Linked DNA regions of Homo sapiens. The protein of the gene in region 1 interacts with the protein of each later gene in a pairwise test. Each region holds a gene or a part of one and is shown on either strand. Other genes may lie near its edges.

The links. The genes of interacting proteins can lie anywhere in the genome.
Region 2: the proteins of CASTOR2 (region 1) and WDR59 interact in binary tests that used the Homo sapiens proteins (3 or more experiments, as listed by UniProt).

The regions. Positions count from the first base shown.
Region 1 is NC_000007.14:75,016,695-75,023,719, reverse strand, and holds part of CASTOR2 (cytosolic arginine sensor for mTORC1 subunit 2), read right to left. Parts: intron 6,123-7,025; coding exon 5,929-6,122; intron 5,731-5,928; coding exon 5,598-5,730; intron 4,749-5,597; coding exon 4,625-4,748; intron 3,682-4,624; coding exon 3,571-3,681; intron 1,847-3,570; coding exon 1,764-1,846; intron 1-1,763. UniProt on the Homo sapiens protein: Functions as a negative regulator of the TORC1 signaling pathway through the GATOR complex. As part of homodimers or heterodimers with CASTOR1, directly binds and inhibits the GATOR subcomplex GATOR2 and thereby mTORC1.
Region 2 is NC_000016.10:74,912,104-74,919,128, reverse strand, and holds part of WDR59 (GATOR2 complex protein WDR59), read left to right. Parts: intron 1-1,120; coding exon 1,121-1,200; intron 1,201-2,869; coding exon 2,870-3,002; coding exon of another isoform or gene 3,003-3,027; intron 3,028-3,134; coding exon 3,135-3,259; intron 3,260-6,766; coding exon 6,767-6,931; coding exon of another isoform or gene 6,932-6,982; exon of another isoform or gene 6,983-7,012; intron 7,013-7,025. UniProt on the Homo sapiens protein: As a component of the GATOR2 complex, functions as an activator of the amino acid-sensing branch of the mTORC1 signaling pathway. The GATOR2 complex indirectly activates mTORC1 through the inhibition of the GATOR1 subcomplex.

The DNA of each region.
Region 1 (7,025 bases):
GCCTGTAATCCCAGCACTTTGGGAGGCCGAGGCGGGTGGATCACTTGAGGTCAGGAGTTCGAGACCAGCCTGGCCAACATGGTGAAACCCCATCTCTACTAAAACTACAAGAATTAGCCGGGCGTGGTGGCACGTGCCTATAGTCCCAGCTACTTGGGAGGCTGAACCCAGGAGGCGAAGACTGCGCCATTGCACTTCAGCCTGGGCAACAGAGCAAGATCCGGTCTCAAAAAAAAAAAAAACAAAAAACAAAAAGAAAAAAAAAATGCTATCCACCAAAGACGTTGTCTGGACAACTGTGGAAACAGAGGAAAGACTAAGTCTTAGGGAATGACTGAAAATTTTCTCCTGTGGAATCCTGTCATTGTGGTTATATAGGAGAAAGTGTTTCTTCTTTTTTTTTTCTTTTTTTGAGGTGGACTCTCGCTCTGTCGCCCAGGCTGGAGTGCAGTGGCGCCATCTCGGCTTGCTGCAAGCTCCGCCTCCCAGGTTCATGCCATTCTCCTGCCTCAGCCTCCCAAGTAGCTGGGACTACAGGCGCCTGCCACCACGACCGGCTAATTTTTTGTATTTTTAGTAGAGACAGGGTTTTGCTGTGTTAGCCAGGATGATCTCGATCTCCTGACCTTGTGATCCTCCTGCCTCGGCCTCCCAAAGTGCTGGGATTACAGGCGTAAGCCACCTTGCCCGGTGCTTCTTCCCAGGATGGAAAAGGCGAGGCATTTAGGAGTAAAGTGTTGGGTGTCAGACTCTCTGGGAGATATGTGACAATTACATGTATTTACGTGAAGAAAACATGTTAAAAAATTGCCAGCAGTTATTATCTTTGAGCTGTGGAAATAAGGAGTGATTTTTTTTCTCTTTAATTTTTATCACAGCCCCAATTTATTCTTTTTTAAATTAAATTTATTATTATTTTTTGAGACAGAGTCTTGCTCTGTTGCCCAGGCAGGAGTGCAATGGAGCGATCTTGGCTCATCGCAACCTCTGCTTCCTGGGTTCAAGCGATTCTCCCATCTCAGCCTCCTGAGTAGCTGGGATTACAGGCGCACGCCACTGTGCCTGGCCAATTTTTTGTATTGTTAGTAGACATGGGGTTTCGTCATATTGGCCAGGCTGGTACTCCTGACCTCAGGTGATCCACCTGCATCGGCCTCCCAAAGACCTGGGATTACAGGCACGAGCTAACTCGCCCAGCCTCTTTTTTTATTTTTAGAGGCAAAGATTTGCTCTGTCACCCAGGTTGGAGTACAATGGCATGATCATGGCTCACTGTAGCCTTGAACTCTTAGGCTCAAGTAATCCTCCTGCCTCAGCCTCCTGAGTAGCTGGGATTACAGGCGCCAGCCACCATGCCCAGCTAATTTTAAAAATTTTGGTAGAGACAGGGCCTCGCTATGTTTCCCAGGCTGGTACAGAACTCCTGGGCTCAATGGATCTTTCCACCTCGGCCTCCCAAAGTGCTGGGATTACAAGCACGAGCCACCGCGCCCAGCTGCTTAATTTTCTAATAATAAGCAACATATTAAATTTCAAGAGGGGGCAAAATAAAAGCACTCCGATTGAAGCCTGCTCCGCACTTCCCCAAGAGGCCTGTGTACAGCTGCCACACACCAGTGAGCAACAGAAATTTCAGGCTCCCCAAGCCTCAGTCTCCCCATCTGTACCCCCCAGCAGGGGCCGAGTCACTGCGGACAACGTATGTGAATGGGCTCAGCAATGCCAGCTCCCTCAATTCCCCATGTAATCCCCCCAGGACTCACCAAACCCCAGGGGCTGTCCTCCAATCCGGACCATCTTCCAGAGCTCTCCGGATGCGCTTGTGAACAGCAAGTTACTAGGAAACCTTCAAAAGGAGCGAGAGAAGAATCCCCGAGGCTGATGTGAATTGCACTCCCTCCTTGGTGTGCTGGTGCACCAGCCAGAGCGAGGCATGGGGCTGGCCAGGCAGGGTTGGGCAGACCTCAGGGCCCCCCAAAAACAATCCCTTCCAGACACCCTGGACCCATTCGCCCGGCGGCCTCCTCGTCTTGAGGGGAGGCGGATGGGGAGGGTGATGTCAGGCTGGGCTTTGTAACAAGCCCCTCCCCAAACCCTTGCTAAGGCTGGTCTAGACACCTCTTCCCAGGTCCAGAGCACAAGCTGAGGGAGAAATAGCACCGGGGCTGCGGTTCAAATCCCCACTTTGCCACCACCCCACAGTGGACCTCGGACAACCCCTGCACCTCTCTGAGCTGGGGGACCAGCTTACTTATGATGAAGTGCTATGGTGAGGGTTTATTAGAGACAAAGTGGCAGGGCGTGGTGGCTCACACCCGTAATCCCAGCACTTTGGGAGGCCGAGACTGGCAGATCACATGCAGTCAGGAGTTGGAGACCAGCCTGGTCAGCATGGCGAAGCCCCATCTCTACGAAAAATACAAAAATTGGCCAGGTGCGGTGGCTCACGCCGGTAATCCCAGCACTTTGGGAGGCCAAAGTGGGTGAATCACTTGAGGTCAGGAGTTCACGAGCAGCCTGGCCAACATGGCAAAACCCTGTCTCTACAAAAAATACAAAAATAAACAGGGTATGGTGGTGTGCGCCTGTAGTTCCAGCTACTCGGGAGGCTGAGGCAGGAGAATCACTTGAACCTGGGAGGTGGAGGTTGCAGTGAGCTGAGATCGCGCCACTGCACTCCAGCCTGGGCAACAGAGTGAGACCCTGTCTCAAAAAGTAAATAAATATTAAAAAAAAATAAAATAAAAATACAAAAATTAGCCAGGTGTGGTGGCAGGCACCTGTAGTCCCAACTATTCAGGAGGCTGAGACATGTGGATCACTTGAACCTGGGAGGCAGAGGTGGCAGTGAGCCAAGACTGCACCACTGCACTCCAGCATGGGTGACAGAGAGAGATCCTGTCTCAACAAAAATAAAAATAAAAAAAATCAGGCTGGTTGCGGTGGCTCATGCCAGTAATCCCAGCACTTTGGGAGGCCGGGGCGGGCAGATCACAAGGTCAGGAGATCCAGACCATCTTGGCTAACATGGTGAAACCTGGTCTCTACTAAAAATACAAAAAATTAGCCAGGCGTGGTGGCGGCGCCTGTAGTCCCAGCTACTTGGGAGGCTGAGGCAGGAGAATGGCATGAACCCGGGAGGTGGAGCTTGCAGTGAGCCGAGATAGTGCCACTGCACTCCAGCCTGGGCGACAGAGCGAGACTCCGTCTAAAAAAAAAAAAAAAAAAATCACGCCTGAGGCGGGCGGATTGCCTGAGGTCAGGAGCTTGAGACCAGCCTCACCAACATGGCAAAACCCTGTCTTTACTAAAAATACAAAAATTAGCTGGGCATGGTGGCACATGCCTGTAGTCCCAGCTGAGGCAGGAGAATTGCTTGAACCTGAGAGGTGGAGGTTGCCTTGAGCCGAGATCGCACCACTGCACCCCAGCCTGGGCGACAGAGCGAGACCCCGTATCAAAAAAAAACAACAACAAATAAAAGACAAAGTGGGTGATGTGCCATCACATAGTCCCCCCAGACCCTGGGGCCCACCCTGGGTTGAACGTCCACCCCAGGGCCTGGCTCACCTCTGCTGCGTCTGCACGTCCATCACCAGGGAGATGTAGCCCTCGATGAGGGAGAAGGAGAAGAAGCGGATGTGGCCGCAGTCATCCCCAGTGGCCATGGGGTCCTTCACTCTGGGGACCAGAGGCAGCTGGTAAAGATGGGGCCCCTGTGGCCCCTGCCCCATTCACACCAGCCCAGGGAAGCTGGGCCCTGCCCAGGCTTTGATGCCACCTGGGTGACCCTGGGCCAGTGTCCTTCTCATCCTGCTCGCTATGCCACGGGGATGATTTCACCGCATTCACAAAGGCGGGTGCTACACTTTGCAGTACTGGAGGCCCGGCCGGCCTCCCACGCAGGTTACACCGGCCCCTGCCTGCATCTCAGGGCACAGGCTGTGGTGACTGTCAGCATGCTGGACCCTGCCCCGCCCCACCTCGTGTTGGCCTAAACTTTACAAAATCTGCTGAGGAAGTGACACAATGTCTGTTGTTCACCAAATGAAAAAAATCTGAGTTCTCAGCTCCTCAACAGACTGGGCCTGTCCTCGGAGCTCAGTGGGGAGTGGGGAGTTTGTTACAGCTCCCAATGAGTCTTTGGGGCGTCACCAAATTTTGGGGTTCCCAGGGTAGGATGTCTCACCCCTGAGACTGGGGCTTTTAGGTAGAGCTGTGTCTCCCCCTCAGCCTAGTTCCAGGGCGGGTCCATGTCTCCCACCCCAAACTAGTTCCGGGGTGGGTCTGTGTCTCCTACCTCAGACTAGCTCCAGGACAGGTCTGTGTCTCCCCACTCAGACTAGCTCTGGGGAGGGTCCATGTGTCCCCCATCAGACTAGCTCTGGGGCGGGTCTGTGTCTCCTACCTCAGACTAGCTCCGGGGCAGGTCCATGTCTCCCACCTCAGACTAGTTCCAGGGTGGGTCCATGTCTCTCTGCTCAGACTAGCTCCAGGGAAGGTCTGTGTCTCTTCCCTCAGATGAGCTCCTAGCAAAGCCTCCCCCGTCAGACTAAGACTCCTAGGCGGAGCCATGCCTCTCCCTGGCCCACCCTGCAACCCCTCATGCCCAAGGCAGCCCTACCCATTGGAGTAGAACATGACATCCATGAGGAGTGTGGCAACAGCAGGCAGCGTGTCAGGGTCCAGGCTGGTGACACAGAACCTGTTGCTCGGGCTGGACAGTGGGTGGATGACTGGCCTCTGGACTGTAAGAGCACAAAGATGTCAGGCACTGAGGCTGGGACTGAAAGCAGCAGCTCTGGTGGGTGCAGGGCCTGGGAAGAGGGCTGGGGAGGGCTCAGCTGCAGGCCCCAAGAGACTCATTCACCGCTGCTTCTCCAGCCTCTACCACCAATTACCACCGTCCTGATTCTCCATCTCACCCTCAGGCCCCTGGGCCTTTGCACATGCTGTGCTGGCTGCCTGGGATGCCCTTCCCAACCGGCACCACCTGGCTCCGTTCCTACCTGTGTTCCAGGCTTCAGCACCACAGTCCCTGCCCAGGGAAATCCACCCTGACACCTGGGCTGCAGCAGGAGTGGCCTCTGGCCATTGCTGTCTGCATGCACGTCCACCACCCTTGCTAGACACGGCAGCAAGGCCTGCCTAGGACCTTTCCATCACATTTTTTTTTTTTTGAGATGGAGTTTTGTTCTTGTTGCCCAGACTGGAGTGCAATGGCACAATCTCGGCTCACCACAACCTCCGCCTCCTGGGTTCAAGTGATTCTCCTGCCTCGGCCTCCTCAGTAGCTGGAATTACAAGTATGCACCACCACACCCAGCTAATTTTGTATTTTTAGTAGAGACGGGGTTTCTCCATGTTGGTCAGGCTGGTCTCAAACTCCTGACCTCAGGTGAATTGCCTGCCTCGGCCTCCCAAAGTGCTGGGATTACAAGCATGAGCCACCACACTGGGCCCTTTGCATCCCGTTCTGCCTGGCACTCCATTCATGCTCAGTGGGCAGAAGCCCGTGCTGAGAGTAAGGCTGGTCTGCGGCTGGGCCTGGTAACTTCGTGAGGTTTCCCCTGCACAAACCCCCGCCCCCAGCTCACCCAGCTTGGGCTTCACGAAGCCATTGGTGATGCCGAGGTTCTCGGCTGCCACGGTCTCGCCATTGACGACCCGCAGGATGGTGAACTCTGATGACAATGTGTGGGTGACAAAGGGCAGGTCCCGCTCGCGCACCTAGGGGCAAGAAGTTGAGGCCGTGTGTGCCTGGTGGCCCTGGGGGATGTGGGTCTGGGGCACCGACCTCTCACCCTGAGACTCTGCCCCCACCCTGGAATAGCGTGGAAGGGCAAGGCTGCAAGGGGTGGGAGATGGGAGTGAGTGTGTCAGAGGCGGGCATGAGTGTGCAAGGCGTGTCTGTGATGGTCAGCTCACCAGGATGAAGTCTGTCTGATACGTGGACAGCATGAACACGGATATGTTCTGGTCAGCCAGTGGGGCGATGACTGACTTGGCGATCTTGGTCACGCCGATGGGCTGGGAGCTGGAGAAGCTGCCACCGCCGGACACCACGTTCAGGGCCAGCCAGGTGGCATCTGCCACACTCAGGTGCTCCGAGGAGGGCAGCTCTGGAGGGAGACACAGAAGGCAGTCCTGTGACTGCTGAGGTTCCAGATGACCCAAGGGCAGGGCAAGGCAGGCCAGAGGTGGAGAGTGATGCTCTGGGGCCAGCTCCACCCTGTGCCTTGCCTCACTTTCCAACAGGATTTTTTTTTTTTGAGACAGTCTTGCTCTGTCGCCCGGCTGGAGTGCCTGGAGTAGCGCGATCTCGGCTCACTGCAACCTCTGACTTCCTGGTTCAAGTGATTCTCCTGCATCAGCCTCCCGAGTAGCTGGGATTACAGGCACATGCCACCACGCCCAGCTAATTTTTGTATTTTTAGTAGAGACAGGGTTTCACCATGTTGGCCAGGATGGTCTCAATCTCTTGACCTCGTGATCCGCCCGCATCAGCCTCCCCAAGTGCTGGGATTACAGGCGTGAGCCACCGCACCCAGCCGGATGGGATTGTTTTTTGAGAGAGTCTTGCTCTGTCACCCAGGCTGGAGTGCAGTGGCGCGATCTCGGCTCATTGCAACCTCCACCTCCTGGGTTCAAGTGATTCTTGAGTAGCGGAGATTATAGGTATGCACCATCACACCCAGCTAATTTTTGTATTTTTAGTAGAGATGGCATTTTCCCATGTTGGTCTGGCTGGTCTCGAACTCCTGATCTCAAGGGATCCTCCTGCCTTGGCCTCCCAAAGCGCTAGGATTACAGGCGTGAGCCACTGCGCCCAGCCTTCAACAGGATGGGATTTGAATCAAAGGCTGCTTCCTGGGAGGACTGGGCAGGGAAGGCCCTCAGATGACACAGGACATCCCCGGCAGCTTAGCAGAGTAGGAGCCATGTGGGCAAGTGGTTGATCTGCACCGAGCCTCAGTTTGCTCAGCCGTAAAACGATGGCATCAGTAGTGGGTAATGTCCTTTAG
Region 2 (7,025 bases), on another chromosome or scaffold:
TGGGACCAGCGGGGGAGGCACAGGTCGAGGGGTTGAGTTAATTTATAACATTTAGAAAGGAATTAGGCATACCTTTTCGTCAAAGTCAGGGGCAGGAAGAGAAGCCAGATGTAGGGTCAGAAGATTGTTGATGTGGACATGAGGCAAGATGGTGGCACTTGTAACAAGCCGTGGTTCAGAATAGTTGCTGTCTGGCTGGCTGTGCCTAGTGATGTATGAAATATTGAAGAGTGAATTTTTGGTTGAAGGTGGTGATGCAGAGAAGGAACCAATAAGAACTGGCCCTTGTTTTCCTGCCCACTCACCCTGTGACCTTGGACAGATCATATTCTCTTGCCTCAGTTTCCCCATCCATAAAATTAAGAAATTGGATGAAATTATTTCTAAAATCTTTGCTCTCTGAAGGTGGCCATGAAGGAGATTCTAGATACTGCATAATTATCCGCAAATGTCCTGATCTTTCATGAAGTTATTTCATAAAGCACCCTGAACCTTTTCAGGATAATTTCCCTTTGACCAGAGTTAAGATGAAAATATGATTCAGTCAATTAAGTACATTAAGGATTGATTATTCATTTTACAAAGAGATACATCACTTTACCAAAAAATTCTTTTGAATGGTAAGATGCCATGATGCATTTGAAATAACCCGTTTTGCAAAAATATGTTCATCTCCAGCTCTTCGAGAGCATGTAAAAGGACGAACATTTGCAGAGGTGAAAGTTTAGTGTGACATTAAATCCCAGCATCGCTCTTTACCTGCTAATTTGCCAGTTAGTATTTCACATCATTTAAGTTTCTGCTCAAATGTGATTTCCTTGGGGAGTTCTATCTAAAAATAGTTCCACCATCAGTCTCTGTCCTCTTATCCTGTGTTATTCTTTATACCAGATGTTTTATCAGATATTTGTCTCTTTCTACCACTGGAATGCGAGATCTATAAAGATAGAAATTATTTTATTCATGCTGTAGTCCTGGTACCTAGAATAGTGCCTGGCATATGAGAAATGTTCAGTAGATGTTTGTTGAATGGATGGATGAATCTCACTCCATTTCAACCTCTAGCAAATAGACGTTGAATCCAGAAGAATTTCCAGGATTCTTATTTGGTGATTTCTAGGGTCCAAGGACTATCAACTGGTGACGTGGTCCCGGGATCAGACCTTGAGAATGTGGCGGGTGGATTCCCAGATGCAGAGGGTATGTATGCAGTGCTATTGTGGAGAAATGTACCTGAATCCACCAAAAAGTGTAAGATTCAGGATTTGCGGAAATTAGAGGTTACAGGATAAACAATTTTTTTTTTTTTTTTTTTTTTTTGAGAGTGCGTCTCACTGAATCGCCCAGGCTGGAGTGCAGTGGCACGATCTTGGCTCACTGCAACCTCTGCCTCCCGGGTTCAAGCGATTCTCCTGCGTCAGCCTCCTGAGTAGCTGGGATTATAGGCGCCCACCAACACACTCGGCTAATTTTTGTATTTTTAGTAGAGACGGGGTTTCACCAAGTTGGCCAGGCTAGTCTTCAACTCCTGACCTCAAGTGATCCACCTGCCTCAGCCTCCCACAGTGCTGGGATCACTGGTGTGAGCCACCTTCCCCGGCAGGATAGACATTTAATACATACTTACTGGTTGGCTGAGTAGCTGGTGTGTACCACACCAAGGCTTTGAGGTCTTTAAGAACCAACTTCAGTATTCAGCACTTTAAGGCCAGAGAGCCTCTAAATGTCTTTCCCCTCCTTATTCTAGCATAAGATAGTATGGGTAGCTCCCTGAGTATGTGCCCTGTGGGTTCATTTCTTTCTCTTCTAAATGGGCTAAGAAGCCTACCCTTGTACGCTGCAAATGCTTGGAGGCTTCTACATCTATCAGCAACACTGCTTTTATGAAGCTGTTTGTAATTTTTTCCCGATAAATGATATCTGTTTCTTACATGAACCACACACAGTAGTACCTGGCATGAGCTGCTTTGGTGGCCCTTGCTCTGCTCTGCCTTATCACAGGGTTCTGTCCTCTCCTCATTTGATGGCTAAATTTCTTGACAGTGGGAAGGTGTCTCACTTGTATTGGATCTCCCACAGCGCTTGGTACATTGCTTTGCACAGAATGAATAGAAAATACTGGATAAAAATTTCAACACTGCTTAGTATGAAGTCACTCTTGAGCAGTTTGATCAAATCTCATTACCTTATTGCATTTTCAATCTGTTTTTTCCAAAAGGTACAATTTGCACCAAATGCCTTGAGGTTATGGTTTTCGTTTTTTTTTTTTTGAGATGGAGTCTCTCTCTGTTGCCCAGGCTGGAGTGCAGCCACGTGATCTTTGCTCACTGCAACCTCTGCCTCCTGGGTTCAAGTGATTCTCCTGCCTCAGCCTCCCGAGTAGCTGGGACTGTAGGCGTCCGCCACCATGCCTGGCTAGTTTTTGTATTTTTAGTAGAGACGGCATTTCACCCTCTTGGCCAGGCTGGTCTCAAACTCCTAACCTCAGGTGATCCACCTGCCTCGGCCTCCCAAAGTGCTGGGATTACAGGCATGAGCCACTACGCCTGGCCGGTTATGATATTTTTGCTCCTGGATTAGCTGAATAACTCCATCAAAGCTTGGAGTTTAAATTAATTTTTTTTCTGAGGCTTGCATAAACTCTGAACATGATGAAAAAATTTCCAGTGTTGAATAATAGAGTCTGTTATCCCTGGTGTTTAACCAGGGAGAGTTGGCAATGGGTAAAATCTATTTTGATTATGTCAGCTCTTGGCTGACACATCCCCATCCTTTGCCCTTCCCATTTTTAAGTCAGAACTCTTTAATCAGACATGACAATCATTTCCACGGACTTCTCTAGAACTACATCTTCTACCCTTTGTTGCAGCTTTGTGCAAATGACATATTAGATGGTGTTGATGAGTTCATTGAGAGTATTTCCCTTCTGCCGGAACCTGAGAAGACCCTGCACACTGAAGATACAGATCACCAGCACACTGCAAGCCATGGGGAGGAAGAAGGTAATTTGTCAAACTGATGTCTCAGGTAAGGTGCCACTCTACGCATTGCAGAGTTGTGGCAGATACCCCAGACCTGTTCTCTGTTTCATTTTCAAAAATGCTTTCCAACATTGAACTTCTCTCTCCTGCTAGCCCTAAAAGAAGATCCCCCTAGAAATCTCCTGGAAGAGAGGAAATCAGATCAACTGGGGCTGCCTCAGACCTTGCAGCAGGAATTCTCCCTGATCAATGTGCAAATCCGGAATGTCAATGTGGAGGTACTTAGTTTAATCAACTGTATCTCATGTTTGCTGATGGCAGTTTGTGGGAGAGGGAACCATTTCAGCAATGATTTCAGTTAGCAAATAGCTTTGCAGCTTTAACAGAACTCTCTCTGCTTGCTTTTTTATTTCCTGGGTTTTCTGGCCAGGCGCGGTGGCTCACGCCTGTAATCCCAGCACTTTGGGAGTCTGAGGTGGACAGATCACTTGAAACCAGGAAGCCAGGAGTTTGAGACCAGCCTGGCCAACATGGTGAAACCCTGTCTCCACTTAAAAAAAAAAAAAAAAATTAGCCTGTAATTCCAACTACTCGAGAGGCTGAGGCACAGGAATCACTTGAACTTGAGAAGCAGAGGTTGCAGTGAGCCAAGATCGCACCACTGTCCTCCAGCCTGGGTGACAGAGCAAGACTCTGTCTCAAAAAAAATAAATAAAATAATTAAATAAATAAATAAATAAATAAGTAAATAAAGAGATGCAGACTTTCTTTCTACCCCTATTCTTTTCTCCTAAGATGAGCCAAAGGAGAACCTGATGCTCGTGTGCCTTAGCTCCTCCTTAGATGCTCCAGCATCTCATTTTACTGTAGAGGAAGATACTTAGGCCCTGGAGGCTTAGTGATTTGGCAGAGGTTGCTGCTGAAGTTGGGGACAGAGTTGACTTGGGAAGCCAAACCTCCAGCCCGTCCAGGGCACTCTGTGCTGTGCTGTGCTGTGCTGTGCTGGGCTGTGCCATCTTCTCTCACAGGCTGGCCATTTCCTGGTAATTTAGATTCACAGTAAGAAGGCAACCAAAACTTCTTTGTTTGCTTAGCCTGTGGAACAGTTACTTTTTTGGGGGCAAGTATTGAAAGTCTTTGCTTCAGAAAATTGAGTATCTCTCCAGAAAGGAGTTTTAAAGCTTGATTAGTTTTTCCTTTACCCAAATATGTGCTGTTACATAACTATCTCATGTGGCTTTTAAAACAAGTCTGCTGGCCAGGTGCGGTAGCTCACGCCTGTAATTCCAGCACTTTGGGAGGCCAAGGTAGACGGATCACAAGGTGAAGAGATCGACACCTTCTTGGCCAACATGGTAAAACCCCGTCTATACTAAAAATACAAAAATTAGCTGGTCATGGTGGCGTGCGCCTGTAGTCCCGGCTATTCACGAGGCTGAGGCAGGAGAATCGCTTGAACCCAGGAGGCAGAGCTTGCAGTGAGGCCGAGATCACACCACTACACTCCAGCCTGGCGACAGAGCAAGACTCCGTCTCGAAAAAAAAAAAAAAAATAGTCTGCTGTAAGTGGTTTTAGCCTCACTTTACAGCTGAGGAAACGGAGACATCAAGAGAAGAAATGTCCAAGGTCAGCAGCTATTTGGTGGAAGAAACAACATGTGAATCCAGGTCTCCAGATTTGCCACATGTGGTTCTTTTCTCTTTACTCCAGCTGCTGTCTCTAGTTGGCAACACAAGAAATGAAAAGATATAAAGGATTCTTTGCTTAATTAGTGATCTATATCAAGTCAGTTTATACTCCCTTTGTCCCATTTGAGGACAGTGTGGATACCTAGTGATCTAGTTTAAGATCTTGATTCCTTTCTTCGAGAGTACTTTAAAAAAATTATTGAGATATAATTCACACAGTATAAAGTTCATCTTTTTTTTTTTATTGAGATGGAGCCTTGCTCTGTCCGCTCAGACTGGAGTGCAGTGGTGCTACCGTGACTCACTGCAGGCTCTGCCTCTCGGGTTCACGCGATTCTCCTGCCTCAGCTTCCCAGATAGCTGGGATTATGGGCGCACGCCACCACGCTCAGCTAATTTTTTTTCGTATTTTTAGTAGAGATGGGGTTTTTGCCATGTTGGCCAGGTTGGCCTCGAACTCCTGATGTCAGTTGATCTGCCCACCTTGGCCTCCCAAAGTGCTGGGATTACAGGCGTGAGCCACTGTGCCCAGCCAAAATTCCGCTTTTTAAAGTATATAATCTGGCTGTTGTGGGTATATTCACAAAGTTGTACAGCCATTACCATTGTCTGATTCCAGAACATATTCATCATTCCCAGAAGAAACCCCATACCCATGAGCAGTCACTCCCTATTTCCCCTTCCCTCAGCCCGTGGCAATCCCGAATCTACTTTCTTCCCCTATGGATTTTCCCAGGAGCACTTTTTAAGTTGAGTCTGGTATTTAACTTCTTCCTGCTTTATTTTCCCATCTCAAAGTAAATATAACAAGTTTCAGTCTACCCCACAGCTTTGGGAGGGAGGAAGCTTTGTTAAAGTCAGAATACTTTGAACTTCGTGGTGGCTCATGCCTGTAATCCCAGCACTTTAGGAGGCCAAGGTGGGTGGATCACTGGAGGTCAGGAGTTTGAGACCAGCCTGGCCAACATGGCGAAACCCCATCTCTACCAAAACACAAAAAGCAAAACAACAACAACAACAACAAAACAAAGATTTGCTGGGCATGGTGGCCTGTAGTCCCAGTATTTGGGAGGTTGAGGTGGGAGAATCACTTGAACCCAGAAGGTGGAGGTTGCAGTGAGCTGAGATTGTGCCACACTGCACTCCAGCCTGGGTGACAAAGTGAGACCCTGTCTCAAAAAAAAAAAAAAAGAATACTTTGTGTTGGGAACAGGCCCCCTGAAATCTGGCCATAAACTGACCCTCTGTGTTGTTTGTCTTTGTGTAGTCTGCAGATGTGGATCTTGACTCCTGCAAGAAGTAGCTCACCGTGACAAAGCTGCCTTTGCTTTTATCACTTTGCAAATCAAAGAAGGGGGACATGTTGGGAACAGGCCCCCCCCCCCCCCAAAATCTAGCCATAAACTGGCCCCAAAACTGGCCATAAAGTCTCTGCAGCACTGTGACATGTTCATGATGGTGGTGATGCCCACGCTGGAAGGCTGTGGGTTTACCGGAATGAGGGCAAGGAACACCTGGCCCACCCAGGGCAGAAAACCGCTTAAACACGTTCTTAAACCACAAACAATAGCATAAGCAATCTGTGCCTTAAAGACATACTCCTGCTGCAGATAGCTAGCCACAGCCCATCCCTTTATTTCAGCCCATCCCTTTGTTTCCCATAAGGAATACTTTTAGTTAATCTATAATCTATAGAAACAATGCTTATCACTGGCTTGCTGTGGATAAATACATGGGTAAATCTTTGTTCAAGGCTCTCAGCTCTGAAGGCTGTGAGACCCCTGATTTCCCACTCCACACCTCTATATTTCTGTGTGTGTGTCTTTAATTCTTCTGGCACTGCTGGTTTAGGGTCACCCCGACCGAGCTGGTCTCAGCAACTTTGAGCTTATTCCATTGGTTTGAAAATTTTAAGAATCTGGTATGAAAATTTAAGAATCTTTTTGAAAATGAATTGTCTTCCACACACATTTGTCTTTGTAGACTCTTTCCCTTCATTCAATTACCAGGAACATGGAGCGTTCAGTTAAATGTGCTTGCATCGAAAGACGCTTTATGGTTTGTTTCTACAGCAATTGTGGATTTGTCTCTTGCAGATGGATGCGGCAGACAGGAGCTGCACAGTGTCTGTGCACTGCAGCAACCATCGTGTCAAGATGCTGGTGAAGTTCCCTGCACAGTACCCAAACAACGCCGCCCCTTCCTTCCAGTTTATTAACCCCACAACCATCACATCCACCATGAAAGCTAAGCTGCTGAAGGTGGGGGTCTGGGTTCCCAAATTCTCCTTGCTGTTCTGCATCATTGTCTAGATGGATTAGTAAAGAAGAATGAAAACTCCAGTAGATGAGATTC